2 separate regions of the Homo sapiens genome follow, and region 2 is linked to region 1. Evidence: fine-mapped expression QTL. Tissue or cell type: cerebellum. Region 1 holds a variant in brackets; the other region holds the start of a gene. All regions are shown on one strand. Distances are from middle to middle.

Region 1 (8,105 bases):
ACTCAAGAGTGGAGCCAGTTTTCAGTAGGAACTCAATTTAGATTCTATTAATTTGGGATTTGAGCTAATAGAATTCAGGTTGGGTTAGAATTTCTGAAAAGCATTAAGAAAAAAGTTAGTAGCCTTGGACCGGGCTTGGGTAAATTCCCTACAACAAATGGCTTCTTGGAGCTGGTCACTGTTTGCCACTGGATACGCTCTGCTGGTGTCGTCTCTGCCCCTGGAGTCCTCTGTGACTTAATAGTGTCCCGGTGCTTGTGAGAGTGGGTTCCAAGTTACAGCTCCAAAGCTCAATGAAGGATGTATTTTGAACTCACTTTTAAACTCCCTTTGAAAACTCTCGGCTCTCCATCTTCTGAAAAAGATGGGGTTTTTGAGGATATCGCCCTTGATAAGCGTCAGATAGGATGTGAGTATCACAGAAAATTGGGGAAATGTTTTTCAGTAGTAAAGGAAATGCCTGTTTGTTGGTAGTGTGCCTTGGCTTTAGGGTCAATCCAGCCTGACCGAACTTTGAGCTTGCGTAGCAGACGCAAGCTACTTTATATGAGTTTCTTCATCTGTAAAGCAGGAATAGAATCCAAAGACCAGTAAGGAATGAGGCAGTGCATAGAAAGCAGTGTGCCTTTCTATAAGCCCCTCAGTGGAACTTTTTTTTTTTGAGATGGAGTCTCGCTCTGTCGCCCAGGCTGGAGTGCAGTGGCACGATCTTGGCTCACTGCAAGCTCCGACTCCCGACTCCCGGGTTCACGCCATTCTCCTGCCTCAGCCTCCCGAGTAGCTGGGACTACAGGTGCCCGCCACCACGCCCGGCTAATTTTTTGTATTTTTAGTAGAGACGGGGTTTCACCGTGTTAACCAGGATGGTCTCGATCTCCTGACCTCGTGATCCGCCCGCCTCGGCCTCCCAAAGTGCTGGGATTACAGGCGTGAGCCACCGCGCCCGGCCCCAGAATTGCTTTTTAAACGTTACTTTCATTTGTACAAGCTATCAAAACATTTTCCTTAAAAATTAAAATATCATAGGTAAGTGGAATCTTAGAACATTCTACTCAAGAGTTTATTACAGCTGTTCTCAAACATTTTGGTCTCAGAACCTCCTTCCGATGTTAAAATGCTGAGGATCCCAAAGAGCTTTTGTTTGTGTTGGTTTTTTTAAAGTTCTTTTTTCTAACTGTTTTGTTTTGTTTTTCATTTTTCCCCACCCAGGGACCTATCAGTGTTTATGTGGATTTTTATCTGTCAGTATTTGCTAATTTAGAAGTTAGCGCTGGGAAATTTTTAAAATATTTATTTATTAAAGATAACAATAGGCCGGGCACAGTGGCTCATGCCTGTAATCCCAGCACTTTGGGAGGCCAAGGCAGGAGGATTACTTTAGTTCAGGAGTTAGAGACCAGCCTAGGCAACATGACAAAACCTCATCTTTACAAAAAATACAAAAGTTAGCTGGGTATGGTGGCACATGCCTGTGGTCCCAGCTACTTGGGAGCCTGAGGTGGGAGGATGGCTTGAGCCCGGGAGGTGGAGGTGGCAGTGAGCTCTGATCGCACCACTGCACTCCAGCCTGCACAACAGAGCAAGGCCCCATCTCAATAAATAAAAAAAGACAATACAAACCCTATTATGTGTTAATATTAGTAACATTTTTATGACTGATAACTTTTTTGAAACAAAAAACTATAGTGAGAAGAGTGGTATTATTTGCCCTTGCTATCCATCTCTTTAGCGTCTGGCTTGCTAGAAGGCAGCTGCTTTGGCCATTGGTGCATTCGGCCTGTTGAGATAGGGTCATTTTGAGTGAACACGTGAAGACCATCTAGCTGCTTACCGATATGCCATTGGGAAGGAGGGGACCTCATAGGACCCCTGAAGGAGTTTTGGGGATCCGCCAGGGGTCTTTGGATCATGCTTTGGAAACCATTGGTTTCAATATATGATATTGAACTTGAAAGTGGGTTGTGTCGTGGCTCCATTTAGGACGATGCTTGTTACTCTCTTGCCAGCTGACCTCTGCATGGCACCATTTGGAATTTTGTTTGCATCAAGAGAAACAAAGGCTCATCAGAATTTATGGCATGTGGTTGAAACTTGTAAACAAACTCAGACTGGTTTGTCTTCCTTATCCTAAGTTGGTGGCGCATCTGTTTCCTTTATGGGTGATAGCAGCTCTTTGTCAATCACGTGTCATCTGCCGTACATTATTTTATCTATGCAGCATCAGTTCCCTGAGCTGGAGATTGTGGACTCCATTTTTACAGGTAATGAAACTAAGGGCTCAGAGAGGGTGAGACATTTGCCTAAGGCCACACAGCTTGTGAGTGACTGGCCAGGTGGGATTCTCTGAATCCCAGGCTGCTGTCAGACACTGTGTCTGGTTTCCTCTCACTCCCACCTAGCCAAGCTCTTTAAACCCCTTCGGCATGTCCCCTTCCCTGTTGGTGGAAAGAGGAAGGTATTAAAGGGGCCTACTGTGGCCACACGTCACAGTGTCATTTCCATTTGTAAACCAGGAGTGTTTCCTTCTAGAGGCAAACATATTTATTCATGGAGTTGTCCAACAACTGTGTATTGAGTGCCTATCCACAATAGGCTCGATTCTAGGCGGTGGGCCTACTGCAGTAGGAATAAATTTTATTCTACAAAATTACTAAGTAGAAAAAAGTAGAAGGAAGGAAAACAAAAATACCTCCAACCCCATGGCCTGGAGATGGCAACGGCTGCTGTTTTGTTTCATTTGCTTCTAATGTTTTAACTGTATAGATCTTAGAATTATATTTGTTCTTCTCTAGAAGGTGGCCTAGTATGAGGGAATCTGATTTGTTCCAAGGAATTTCAACAGATGACTGCGTGCTCTGCGTTTGAGCTCATCTGCTAGTTATCTGTCCTTCTGCTCACTTACCACTCCTCCCATCCATCCAAGCAGCCATCCCCAGCCACCCACCCAGCCAGCCATCTAGCCACCCACCCAGCCACCCACCCAGCCACCCATCCAGCCACCCATCCAGCCACCTACCCAGCCAGCCATCCACCAACCCAGCCACCCATCCAGCCACCCACCCAGCCACCCAGCCACCCATCCAGCCACCCACCCACCCATCCAGCCACCCACCCATCCAGCCACCCACCCACACATTGACCCATCCCTGTGCCCACTCCTCTTCTCACGCATCCCCTCCCCCGTGCACTGTGCCTGGCGCTTCCACAGAGTAGCAGGCACTGCTCAGGGTGCCAGGGATGTATTTTTCAAACGGGACAAAAGCAGTCTCTGTGATCTTGGCCCTTGTGACCTGGGTGCTTTTAGAATGGGTGGTGATTGCAACCTAATTCAGCTGGAGGGAATTGATAGTGGACTGTCTTGTTATGAAAATATTCTCCCTGTCTTTGAAATGTACTAATCGACTGTCTTCTTACCTACAGGATTCTGCTTCAGGAAAAAAGGAATTGTCTACTTATGCAGCTGGAAGAAGCCACCCGCTTAACATCCTACCTCCAGTCCCAGTTAAAAAGGTAGGTTACTTTCAAAGAGAAAACTGTACTTGTTCATCATGTTCCAATGACTGGTACATGAACTCGTTTCTTGTAGCTTGACCTGAAATGTTGTTAACACAGAATGGATACATTATATTTTTAACATGCTACTACTGTATGACTCAAGGAATATGGAGAGAACCACATTTGGCTTCAGGGTAAATAAGAGGCCTGAAGTCAGATGTATTCAAGGATTTTGTAACCTAATTAACAGTTTCAGAAGTGTACATCTATACACGTGCGCATTTTTGTTTTGGGTTTTTTTTAAAAGCATACGAACTTTTTAAGCTAGTAAGATTTGGCTGCTCAAGAATGGCCAATGTCAAGGGCCTCAGATGTGTCATTTTCTCAGATATTCCTCCTAACAATGCCCCAGGTGGGAACTGTTCTCACCCCAGCCCCAGTGGGAGCCCAGAGGGGGTGAATGGCTTGACCAAGTGTACCTGGCTAGTATGTGTTCCAGCCAGGACTGGGACTGGGACTTGGGCACGGGTCTCTGCTGTTGCCCACTGCTCTCTGCCACCCTTTCCGTGCTCACAGGGTGAGCAGGGGTGGCTGCCCTGCCATCTCAGATGGCCATGCTGTCTCATTTCAGCCTGTGTGCCAGCACCCTGACGGTGTCCTCGGGGAGCAGCCGCGGGTCCCTAGCCTCCAGCCGTGGGTCTCTGGCCTCCAGCCGGGGCTCCCTGAGCTCGGTCAGCTTCACGGACATCTACGGCCTCCCGCAGTACGAGAAGCCCGACGCTGAGGGCAGCCAGCTTCTACGCTTCGACCTCATTCCCTTCGACTCTCTGGGGCGAGATGCTCCCTTTTCAGAGCCCCCAGGCCCCTCGGGCTTCCACAAGCAGAGGCGGTCCCTGGACACGCCCCAGTCCCTGGCATCGCTGTCCTCCCGCTCCTCGCTGTCCTCGCTGTCGCCCCCAAGCTCGCCCCTGGACACGCCCTTCCTCCCTGCCTCACGGGACTCGCCGCTGGCGCAGCTGGCGGACAGCTGTGAGGGGCCAGGCCTGGGCGCCCTAGACAGACTGCGGGCACACGCCTCGGCTATGGGGGACGAAGACTTACCAGGCATGGCGGCCCTTCAGCCACACGGGGTCCCCGGGGA[T/C]GGGGAAGGGCCGCACGAGCGAGGACCCCCACCAGCCAGCGCTCCCGTGGGTGGAAGTAAGTGCGGATGTGGCCTCCTGCGGGGCGAGGGTTACCTGCAGGGCGGAAACTGTGGGGTCCAGAGTGAGGATGGCTGGCTTTCCAGGTCCATGGTGAGCTTTACGTTTAGGAATATTGATGTGATCGGGAAGAGCACACACCTGCTCTTTCTGATCTGTGTTGGGGAAAGATCATTGAAATTGACAAAGTTGTCTTTCCTAGGTATTTGGCTTGTTTTCAAAAAATACTTAATTGTTGAAAACTAGGGTAAGAACTACACAGGCTTCCACATTCAGAGGCTGCTGGAGATGGATTAGGGCCTTCATGACCTTTGCAGCGTGCGTGCCGAGATGGAACCGTCAGTGTGTGCCCGCCTGAGACCATTATGCCAACAGGTGTCTGGTTGTAGCTAGTGGAAATCTTGACTTCTTTTGTTGCTTTGACATCTCTTTATCTTTTATAGTTTTCATAGTTTCCAAGAACATAGGTCTATCAAATGTGGAAGTGAAAATAATTGTGTAATTTCAAAAGACATGCCTGTAAGTATCGGTCATTTCTACTGATTTGGTTTCTCTGGTGATTCTTCAAATGGAAAAACACGGAGCTCCGTGGAGCCTCATCCATTCAGTTGGTGTTGGTTCAGCTCCTCCTCGGAGCTGGGGTCTTTCAGCTTGTAGCCTGCTTGGAAGACCAAACTGCTATTGAAGGGAATATTGACCCCATGTGCTTTTCTCAGCCACCCATGGCAACTTTATCTTCCTTTGGTTTTAAAGAGGATCAAGAACAAGGTCTCCCGTTCCTGAAGTTCAGCCCATTTAATTGACTTTTATTTGCACGGCAAAAATGTTTTAAATGTTCCATTTAGGCAAACACTAGATAATTTGTGCAGCATAGTGGATCTCAGCCAGGGGTGTTTTTGCGTCCTGCCCCTGGGGAACACTTGGCAATGTCTGGAAACATTTTTGGTTGTCACAACTAGGGGATGGGAGATGCTCCTGGCATGCACAGGGCAGCACCCCCTCCCCCTCGAGAATGGTCCAGCCCCAAATGTCAAGAGGGCTGAGGCTGAGAAACCCTAGTCACGTACTATGGAGTATTTATGCGGCAAGGGGTAGAAATAAAACTAGAGAGCAGAACCAGTGTGGTGTAGTGGAAACAGCTTCAAACTAGCAGCTGGGAGACCAGGCTTTTGTTCCCTGCCCTGTCCACTTCTAGCTGTGTGACCTTGAACACATACCTGGACTGAGTCTCACCTTTTCCACCCTTGAATGCAGTGATCTTTGTGACCCCTTCCATTTGCCACCATTCTGTTACCCAAGAGATAGATGGATTGGTAGATCAATAGATAGGTTGATCACTCTATAAAATAGTAGTCTGTTGGCACTTACGTGCGTAACCAGAGGCCATCATGTTCTGAGACTGCCCCAGGGCTTTTTGGCATCTCTATTTTGGTGTCTGCCCCTGTGTTTGCAAACACACTTTGGTATCCCCAGATACATTGTTTCTGAAGTCCATATATGCAGGTATCCTTCATTAGCTTTGTTCCTCTTTATAACCACAGGTTGATTGCTCCATGTTTATTCCGTTCAGTCAGAAAAGAAATATCCAATTAGGACTTCTTTCTTAGTCTCCCTCCTCTCTCCCACCACCTTCTCCTTAAGGGATTGAGATTCCAGAATGTCAGTCTAGTTAGGCATAAAATCTGCACAAGGCCCAAGGGCCACTTTGGGTCAGAGGAGAGACAGAGTGGGAGGGAGAAGCGCTGACTTAATTTCACATCCTGGTTTCTTTATTTTTTCCTTTGCTTTCCGTGGCAGATGCTATAATGGTTGAAACTTCTTGGACTGGGAAGTATTTGCTTACGTGTGTAGACACTGCCATCTCGTGGTGGAGCCATATGTCATTCGTGATTATTTCTTGTATTACACTGCCATCTTGTGGCGGATTCGTATATGACATTGGTGATGAATTCTTGTATGGCACTGCCATCTGGTGGCGGATTCTTATATGACACCGCCAATAAATTCCTGAGTGACACTGCCATCTGGTGGTAGATTCTTATATGACATCGGTGGTGGATTCTTGCGTGACACTGCCGCCTAGCGGTAGCTTTTTATGATACTGCCATCTGGTGATGGTTTTATATGTTACATATATTACATTGTTTCAAGGACACATATGTATTATGTTGTTCTAAGGACACGTTTATTTGTATCCTTAGAAACTTGAAATAGTTGACCCTGCTGGGTGTCCCCAGAGGGCCGGGTTGGGTAGCCAGCTTCAGGCATGGACACAGGGGGGGCTCCTCGCCTCCCCTGCCCCATCATGTATCAGCTGTGCTGGGAACACTGCAGTCTAAGTTTGGCCCCCAGCAAGTCTTAGTAAGACAAAATTTTTGTAAGATAAAAATCAAAGTTGTCCAAACTTGCAAACCAGCCTCTGAATGATTTTTTCCTTGTGTTTTCAATCAATCGGAGGAAACAGAAGGCAGGTCAGAGGAGTGGGGCAATACACTGTGATTTTTCATACTATTTACGTTTTTGTTACAGTTTTGTCTTCCCTGGATTTTAAAAGTCAAATGTGTTATGATTATGAAATACTTAGCTATTTTCATCTACCCATTAGTATTTGCTAATCAAAACCTGTAAAAATCTTGACTTTGCTCATATTGATGTTTTTATGATATTGATATTCTGTTTAATGTTGTTGGCTTAAATTCTGCAGTGTTTTCACTTTGTGCTTTTTTTTTTTTTTATCTCCTCATGCGGCTCGACAGAAGTGCTCACTGTAAGTGGCCTTGGGAGTCCCCTTGCTCAGCGTTGTTGCTCAGGCCCCAGGCATACGTTTGTGCTGTGGATGGATGTGTTCAGGATGGCTGGGGTGTGGCCAACGACGGTTATCTTATAGCTGTGCTTCAACACAAGTTGGCAATTGGCCTTATTGTTATCTCATTGTTAATATTCAAGCTGTTTAAGAACTTTCCTAGAAGCTTTCACTGTTCATTCCCTGTATGTGTTTGTTTCTGGAATGTAATGGCGTTCGTTGCTGTCATATGCCACCTGGCAGCTCTGCTATGCTGTGGTTTTGACTGTATTTTCTTCCTTTTTACCAAGCACTGTTCACATCCTTGGCTCTTAGTGTCTGTCTGTCTTGAATGATGAAAAGGGAGTAAAGAGATTTTCACATGAACATGGGGAAGATTTGACCCTTGTCTCCCTGGCACTGCTCCTGAGGGTCCACCTCTGTGCCTTGAAGCCCCAGGGCAGGTGTCCGGGGTGTGGAGCGTGGAGTCTGTGCTTTTTCTCAGCCGGGGCAGTTGCCGACAGGACTTCCTCCTGGCAGTTCCTACTTCCACCCACCCTGTGGGTCCAGTGACTCAGCCTGGGCTTCGAGGATTAGCTCCTTCATTTCTTTCCTCTCTGTATTGACTT
Region 2 (8,105 bases), 100 kb before region 1:
CAAACGCAGACTGGCAGGTTTATCCACACAGTGGACGCTTTGGGAATACCCTGCCTGTCTTTGGAGTGGAAGATTAGGACATGAGAAAAACCTGAATTTTCAAAATGGACGCATCTACACAAATCAAGGAAGTCCCAGTTGAGAAAAGTGCCCCCCGTCCACACACGAAATCTAAACAGTGACTTTTTTTAATACAAGTCAAATAAGTGTCTAAAGTTTACGTCTTTACATAAAGCCATGAAATAAAACACCAAGAAATAACCTCACCCTGTCCCCATTCCAACTCCTGAGCCTGGGGAGGGTCCCCTTAGGGATCTTTGCAATTTACCCTTCCTTTGATGCCCCTAAACCAGCAAGACAGGAATGAACAAGAACAACATCTAATCTCCTCCAGTGCTTGTGGATTTGCATTATTTAAATATATGAGAAACACCCATAATTGAGTAATTATTCTAGCATTTAAAGAATGCCAAACAATGAACCATTTCTTCTTCAGACCTAATCCGGCCCATTTCCGTTTTCCTCTTAGCACAATGTGTAGAATTACCCAATGTGTCGCTTCCTAGAACACTTGATTGTTTATACAAGGTAGGCAAGACTTCTCTGGCGGTGTTTATTTTTCTCATTTTACACTTGATGATTGTAGCCTTTACAGATTTTCCTTTTCTAGACGCTTATCAAGTACTGAATGTGTATGGATCCAATTTTGCACTTTCCTTTTTACAAATAAAGCTTATCCTTTAGGCGAGGGCTGGGGAGAGAAGGCAGAATCTGATAGTAAAAATCTTCAGACTCTGTCCTTGTTGGAGTTACTCCTTAACCATCATTTTAAGGAAAGTATTCTGCAAGTTAGAGATCAGTGCATTGTAACAGCTTCAGAAAGGGGATTTCCCAGAGGGTCTGGGAGGAGAACAAAAGCATTTGCATCTCCTTTCCCCAGAGACTAAGTGGATTTTTCCTGAGCTGCTTTTCCATGTGAAGTCTTGGTGGGAGGATGGAGCACTACACAATGTTCGTGCTTTTGCTGTTGGCCCGGCTGTGGTTTTAATGCGGAGGAAATAAAGAATGTAGAATTGTGCATTCAGTTAGGACTCAAGACTCCTTCGCCCTGCAGTGTTTTGTGTGTGTGTGTGGTTTTTAGTCCGATGTGGAAAGCCCCACTTGACTGTAAGAAAGACAGGCCTTATTCTAACAATTCACACACACACACACGCACACACACGCACACACACACACACAAAGAGAGAGAGAGACAGAGAGAGAGAGAGAGAGAGAGAGAGATCGATCCCAATTTATGGCAAAGCTGGGAAGTCAAGAGTCCCTTCACACCCCTACCAATTTCTCTTCCTTTCCATCTCCATTCACAAGTCTTTAGGGACCATCAGCAAACGCCTGGGGCTAACATTGCACACAAGTGGAAAAGGACTAATGGTGTAATAAAGAGGTCTTGGTCACCCCAAGCGCTGGCCTCTTCCTCTCTGGTTCAGCTCCTTTTAGGAAGACAAATGCAATAGCCCCACTTCTGTTCTCTCAGGCAGAGAGTGTCCAGAGGCAGTGGCTGGGCATGTGGATGAAGTTTTCTCAGTGAGGGTCTCCAATCTCTCTTCTCTGGCATGCTGTGTCACACTTCTTTTGCCTCTATTAATGTGCAAATGAAAGTAGGAATGCCTCTAGATGTTTTGGTGATTAAATGAGCTCGTATTTGCTAAGTGCTTAGATGACAGTAAGTGTGCAGGAGCCTATCTTAGGTCAGGCTCTTTAGAAAGGGTGCCTGAGACGGGGGTTCTCGAGTGAGCGGCTGATTGGAGGCATGCTTACACGAGTAAGGGAGGCGGGACCGGGCAGGGGAGGAGCTGGCAAAGCTATGATTTCCAGAGAAGTACAGCCTCAGCCTGATCCCATGGGGGATCCCATGGGGAGCTCTGGGGTGTCAAGGGCATTCGAGTTTGTGTCACCAAGGCAAGGAAACTGGACGGTCAGCTCCTGGGGCTGGGTGTAATCTCTCAGACATCTGTGTTAATGAAGGGTCATCTTCACAATACTCCAAAAGAAGGGAGCCCGCCCCAGCATCTGCTATACAAGTAAACAATTTCATGACAGCAGCTCCATGTGCCAAGGGGCAAGAGCTCAGAACTTGGGAATCTGAACATCTGAGCCTCAGTTTCCTCATCTGAGGCACCTTCCCTTTGGTCTCACAAAGCCTCCCACGAGTCCCCAAATTGAGGTTGGCACCCTGGCTTCATTTGTTGACAAGTGACAATTGTATTACAAGGGCCTATTTCTATGTTTAGTCCCCAAGGGAGTGCAAGCTGAAGCACAGACTATCCTCTTCCCTGCAGCATGCCTACACGCAGCACAGTGTCTGCGCGTGGGAGGTCCACTATTTGCTGCCCGCCTGAACGGGTAGAAATCTTTCACCTTCAGTGAAGACTCCTCGGCGCTGGCCTCTTTGAGCTCCTAATTGGATGCAGTTTCCCCCACTCCTTGCTCTACCTGATGCTTTTTTCATCTTGCCTTTCCTTCTGAGTCCTTTGATGTGTGGTGTATGTGTTCTCCTCTTTCCACTCTCTCTCTGCAGAAGTCGGTTTCACTCCAATACGCCCCAGCCCCATTCAAAGTACTTTCGAGTGATAGATTTGTGTCCAGATTTGTGAGATTCTAAAAGGACCAGGTGACAGGGAGGGTGGAAATGCAGCTTCAGAACGGCCATGTTGGGTGGTAAGGTAAGAAGGCAGTGGCAGCCCCACTGGCGATAAATCATGCCAATCGGAAGGGAAGATGTCAGAGCAGGGACACTCAGCACTTGGGGCATTCCCTGGCACATGCGACATCACAAAATATGTGCTTTTTTGACCCTCCCACTCTTTCCCTTGGACATGTAATAATCACACATGTTTAAAAGGACTCATGCGGTGGAATTTCTCACATAGAACATTCAGGTAGGGGTAGATAGATACTTGGGGAGCAAGAAAGTTTCTGTGTTGTAGTAGGAGGAGGGAGAGGAAAGACCTTCCTTGGATAGTTTTTTGGACGTCGCTATACCTTCACAACTTCACATTCTTCTTCTTCTTCTTCTTCTTTTTTTTTTTTTTTTTTTTTTTTTGAGACAGGGTCTCTGTTCCATCGCCCAGCCTGGAGTGCAATCGTGCAAACACGGCTCACTGCAGCCTCGACCTCCCTGGCTCAAGTGATCCTCCCACCTCAGCCTCCCAAAGTGTTGGGATTAAAGGTGTGAGCCACCGAGCCCGGCCCCACATTCTTCTAATTTTTTTTTTGTTGTTGTTGAGATGGAGTCTCACTCTGTCGTCCAGGCTGGAGTGCAGTGGCGCGATCTCAGCTCACTGCAACCTCCCAGGTTCAAGCAGTTCTCCTGCCTCAGCCTCCCGAGTAGCTGGGATTACAGGCGTGCGCCACCATGCCCGGCTAATTTTTGTATTTTTAGTAGAGACGGGGATTTCACCATGCTGGCCAGGCTCGTCTCGAACTCCTGACCTCGTGATCCGCCCGCCTGGGCCTCCCAAAGTGCTAGGATTACAAGCGTGAGCCACCGCGCCCGGCCCATTCTTCTTTTTTAAAACAACCTTTCCCCTCATAAAAGTAATATTACCATTTTACAAAAAATTGGAAGGCAAATCATTTTTAAAAATCCCGCCAAAGGAATGCAAACTCTTGTGAGCATTTCAGGACATTTTCCTCCAGTCTCTTCCCCTGTGTATCTGGATTTCAATCAGGCTCTACCAGATATTTTTGTATCACTGTAACTGTTTAAAAATCTCCCTGATACTGTCCTGCATTTCCTGGCATAACGTGTTGCGGCTGTGGGTCTGGGGCACGAAGTAGGTGGGAGATTTAGAGCAAGACACAGCCCCAACTCTGGAGCTTCAGCTTCCCCAGCTGGGAGCCAGTGAAACAGAAGTTCCCGTCTAGGCTGAAAGTTTTAGGAGTTGACCCGGCTTCCTCCCCAGCAATGGTCTACTTGGGTCTCCGCTCAAACGATCAGACCCCACAAACCGGATGAAGCGCTCAGGGAAGGTCAAGGAACTCCCGCCTAGTGTGGGCCCCCAGGTTAGCCCTTCTAGGGCTGTCCTGGCGGGGACGCAAAGTGGCCACCTGCCCAGCTGCCCGCTTCCAGAGGCGTCCTCCCTGCGCCGCCCGAGAGGACCGGCCGCGGGCTCCCCCAGCTCCTCAGCTCCCTCGGCCCCGCCTTCAGGGGCTTTTCCCACCTTCGCGGGACCAGACGGGTTGTGTGGGAGACCGAGGGCGCAGCCTCCCGCCAAGTGCGCAGAGGGTCTCCAGACAGCCAGAGCCCGGGAGCGGGTGAAGGGAGGGCACTGCCCGCTCTCTCGGGAATTGTTTGCGCCCGAGGAGTCACCCCAGGCAGGCCGCGCCCGCAGTCCGGGTAGGGCGTCGTCCTCCCCGCCCGCCTTCCTCTACGCGGGGGCCCGGGGGCGGACTGACGCGGCGGCGCCCATCCTGGCCTCCATGCGGTTTCCCGAGGCCGGAGGAAGGTGGCGGAGCGGGAGGGAGAGAGCGAGGAGCGCGCGGAGAGGGAGGACGGCGGAGGGGGAGGAGCAAGCGGAGGGGTGGGGGTGGGGTCGAGGAGCCGAGCGCCGAGGAGGACCCCGAGGGAGACTGGGGGCGGAGCAGCCGGCGACGGAGAGGCGCGGAGGACGCGGGGCCGGGGGAGGCGGAGCAGCGGGAGTGGGTGGAAAAGCAGAGGCGGCGGGAGGAGCGGGAGCCTCCGTGGGAGATTCGGGAGGAGCAGCCGGCGTGGGTGGAGCCGCCGGCGTGGGAGGAGCCGCGGGGCCTGGGTGAGAACGGGGCGGGACGGCCGGAGGCGGGGCCTGCGAACGCCCTGCCCCTGCTCGCCCGGGCCGCGCCGAGGAACGAAGATGGCCGGGCGCGCCGCGGGAACGGAGGGGCGGCCGGCAGCGGCGGCGGCGGCGGCGGCGGCTCCCGGGCTGTGACTTCGCGCGCGGCGGCCACCCGGGCTACCTGAACGGAGTGGGCGGCGCGGGCAGCGGCTTGCTAGGGCGGGCGGGCGGACGCCGGTGCACGGGCGCCGGGCGGAGGATGCGCCAGGAGCGGCGGGCGGCTCCCCGCGGCCGCCCCCGCGCCCCGGGCGCCGGGCCTTAGTGCTGGCGGAGGAGGCGGCGCGCGCGGGGCGGCCGGGCGGCGGCGGGGCCCGCGCCGTCATGCCTTGGCTGAGCGGCGGCCGGCGGCGACGGCGGGGACAGCCGCGCGAGGCCCCGCGGGAGCCGCCGCCTTCTGCGCAGCCCCAGCGGGAACCGCGCCGCCGGCGCCCCCCGCCGCGGTCCCCACGCCCCCAGCTCCTTCCGCGCCGCCGCCGCGGGCCCGGGAGAGCGCCGAGCTGCCGCTGCCCGCCGGCTGGGAGGAGGCGCGAGACTACGACGGTCGCGTCTTTTACATTGACCACAACACGCGCCAGACGTCGTGGATCGACCCCCGCGACCGGTAAGCGGGCCGGCTGGGGGCGCCAGACCCGGCGCGGGCGCTACGACCCGGGCCGCCGGCCGGCGCCACCGCGGATGCGCTGGGGACACGCCCCGCCCAGCGCGGGGCCGCCGCCGAGAGCCCCCGGGCCCGGGCAGAGCTCGGAGCGCCTCCATCCCCGGAACCAGGGGACTCCCTGGAGTGCTCCGGTCCAGGCTACGATCGAGGCGCCCCCATCCCTTGGGCCCAGGGAGAGGATCGGAGACACCAGGAGGCCCTCGGGGCTGGGTGAAGATCTTTGGTTCCGGGGGTCCGGGAGAGGATCCACCCTCCCAATACCCCGACTCCCAGGGCTCTGACCAAGAATGGAGGTGCCCCTTCTCCAGGCCTCGAGCCCTCTGAGCGCCGAGGCCGGCCGCCTACAGGTCCCCCGCCGCTGGGCGGACCCTCTCATTCGGTTCCCTCACGTCACCCGCTGTCCGGCGCCTGGGAACTGGGCTCCTGGAATTTCCTCTCCTGGGGCTGACAGATGGCCCTCTTTTCCTTTCTCTGCGGCAGCCTCGCCCATCCCGGTCCCGGGCGTCTGCGGCCCACTGCCCCGGCCCTGGTTCTGCAGGTGTCCCCAGCCCCGCGGTGGCGAGATGAGCTGTCACCTTGGATCACAAACGTGCGCCCCAGCTTTGGGGTGCGGGTTCCCTGTCTGGCGGGTTCAGGCTGGTTTCCATCCAAAACCTGATGTCAGACGGGCCCTTGAGGGATTCCCAACCCTTTTGGAGTTGGAGAAGTCTGTTCCCAAACTCTAGTTGCTCTTTAGCGCCTTAAAACTCGTGAGTTAAAACTGTTTGAAATAGCCTTCTGTACTGCAGCCAGAATGCAATATGATTAGTCCCATATGCTTTTGGAATAAACGAAAAACAAGAATTGTATTTTAAGTTTCCTTTTTGTGAAAGATATGCATGGGGTACAAAGCTGTCTTATTCACGTATAAAAACCCAATCAAGTAAAAACTGATTCTTGTAAAAGCACTATCAGATTTCATTTAATTAATTCCATGTAACGAAGCTCTTCCTTAACTTTTTGCTCGATTGTCTACGGGTTTCGATTGTTCAACTGCTTTTACAGAGATGTATTTTGTGTGGAATTGGGATTTCTGTGGACATCAAGTGTTTCCACAGGTTATCTGATGTCTTGTCCTCTCTAGAGCAACTCTCCTTCCAGGGCCTGAGTGCCAAAAAGGAAACACCACAGGCTTCCCAGTGATTTGAAGACTTGCAAAGGCCCAGTGTGGTGACATTGTGCCTGCTTCCTCCTACCTGCACAGGGAAGGCGGCCTGCATGGCACTGGCGTCTGAAAATAAACTTTTGAGGAGAGAAGCTGCTGAATTGTTTGAAGATTTCTCTGAGTTCAAGCAGGGGAAAACAAAAGAAAGCAAAACAAAAAGATCGTGATTCCCTAACATTCTCGCTGAACATTGCAAACCTCTGGGCTCAGAAACCTATATCAATCCTAGTACAATTTTATGGGTTAAAAAGATGCCTAGTTATTTTGAAAATCAGGTGAGATCATGTTATAATTTTAACCAAAGGCTAGAGCCCCAGCTGTTTGATCAACCCTTGGATGGTTCTGGAATTGGTAGAACTGCTTGGAATGCAGTGCCCTTTTATACCATATGTATGTTAAAAACCCAAACAACTGGAAAATGAACCAATTAAAATAGTGTTTTGCTTAGAAAAGGCTAAGGCTCACTTTCCAAGGGTAATATAAAACAGTTGTGGTTATATTGGAGTGGAGATTCATGCTGAAAGATATCAATGTGAGGATTTTCTTTTTAATGGTGTAACCTGTGACAAACGTGAATGGACCATACAGAAATCAGCTTGGAGAATCTTGTTTTCCATGTATTTCAGACACATTTCCTATATTCCTTTTTTCCAGAAATCGATTTGTTACTTTTCAGACAATCACTTAAAGGTTTTTAAAAAGTCTCCGTTCTGATGCTAAAATTGTCAATTGAGTCAACAAAAGTGGATATTTTACCTTTTTTTTGTAAAGTAAAAACGTGTGTACTTTTATGAGACGTTGTTTTTATAGTGAGTGAAAATTCAGCAGGGGACAGCTTGAACTTCAGCTCCCATAATACCTTGCCCGAAATATGTATGGAATGTTCAGCAAGCCACAAACATTTAAGTGGAGTCGGCTGAAGGCTGTAATAGTCATTCTTCTTCCTCTTTCAAAACAGAACCTGGCCGAGTTTTATAGGTGGCGGGTTACCCTTTAAAGTTGTAATTAACTTTTATTATATGGGAAGAACTGCATGTCAGAGGGCAGTGTTTTCTCCATGCGCATCTGACAGTTAAAACCCTTTTTGAGTTGCTTTTGAGTCACACAGGAAAATGGTATTCAAGAAATACGAGGACTTTCACCAAACAGCTTCCACATAGAGACCTGACAGGAGAAAGGCAAATACATAATAGCTTTTTTTTTCTCTTTAAGAAAATGAAATTGTGGTGGAATAAATGAATGTAGTAGGTTAAGTGAAAATTGTTGTTGACTTTAAACATAATTTCATATAAACTTTAGTAAAAACTGTATAGCATAAAATATGGTCCAAGGATTGTAAACAAAATCTCTTCTTGAGTTTTATAGTAAT

What was found. PIP is the estimated chance that this variant, and not a neighbour inherited with it, causes the effect.
Region 2: WWC3 starts here. The variant in region 1 is fine-mapped to the expression of WWC3 in cerebellum (GTEx, PIP above 0.99). The same link has a PIP of 0.9 or more in cerebellar hemisphere.

The regions. Positions count from the first base shown.
Region 1 is chrX:10,112,998-10,121,102 of GRCh38, forward strand. It overlaps WWC3 (WWC family member 3), which reads left to right. Exons shown (of 24, transcript NM_015691.5): 11 at 3,421-3,510; 12 at 4,127-4,692. Among named protein-coding and RNA genes, the nearest start is that of CLCN4, 40 kb to the right of the region's middle. RefSeq lists an enhancer at 6,432-6,726. The variant T/C (reference allele first, on the strand shown) is at 4,637.
Region 2 is chrX:10,010,384-10,018,488 of GRCh38, forward strand. It overlaps WWC3 (WWC family member 3), which reads left to right and starts at 4,871. Exons shown (of 24, transcript NM_015691.5): 1 at 4,871-5,290; 2 at 5,293-5,475. The coding sequence starts at 5,196. RefSeq lists enhancers at 2,986-3,869, 3,870-4,753 and silencers at 4,574-4,743, 4,784-4,843.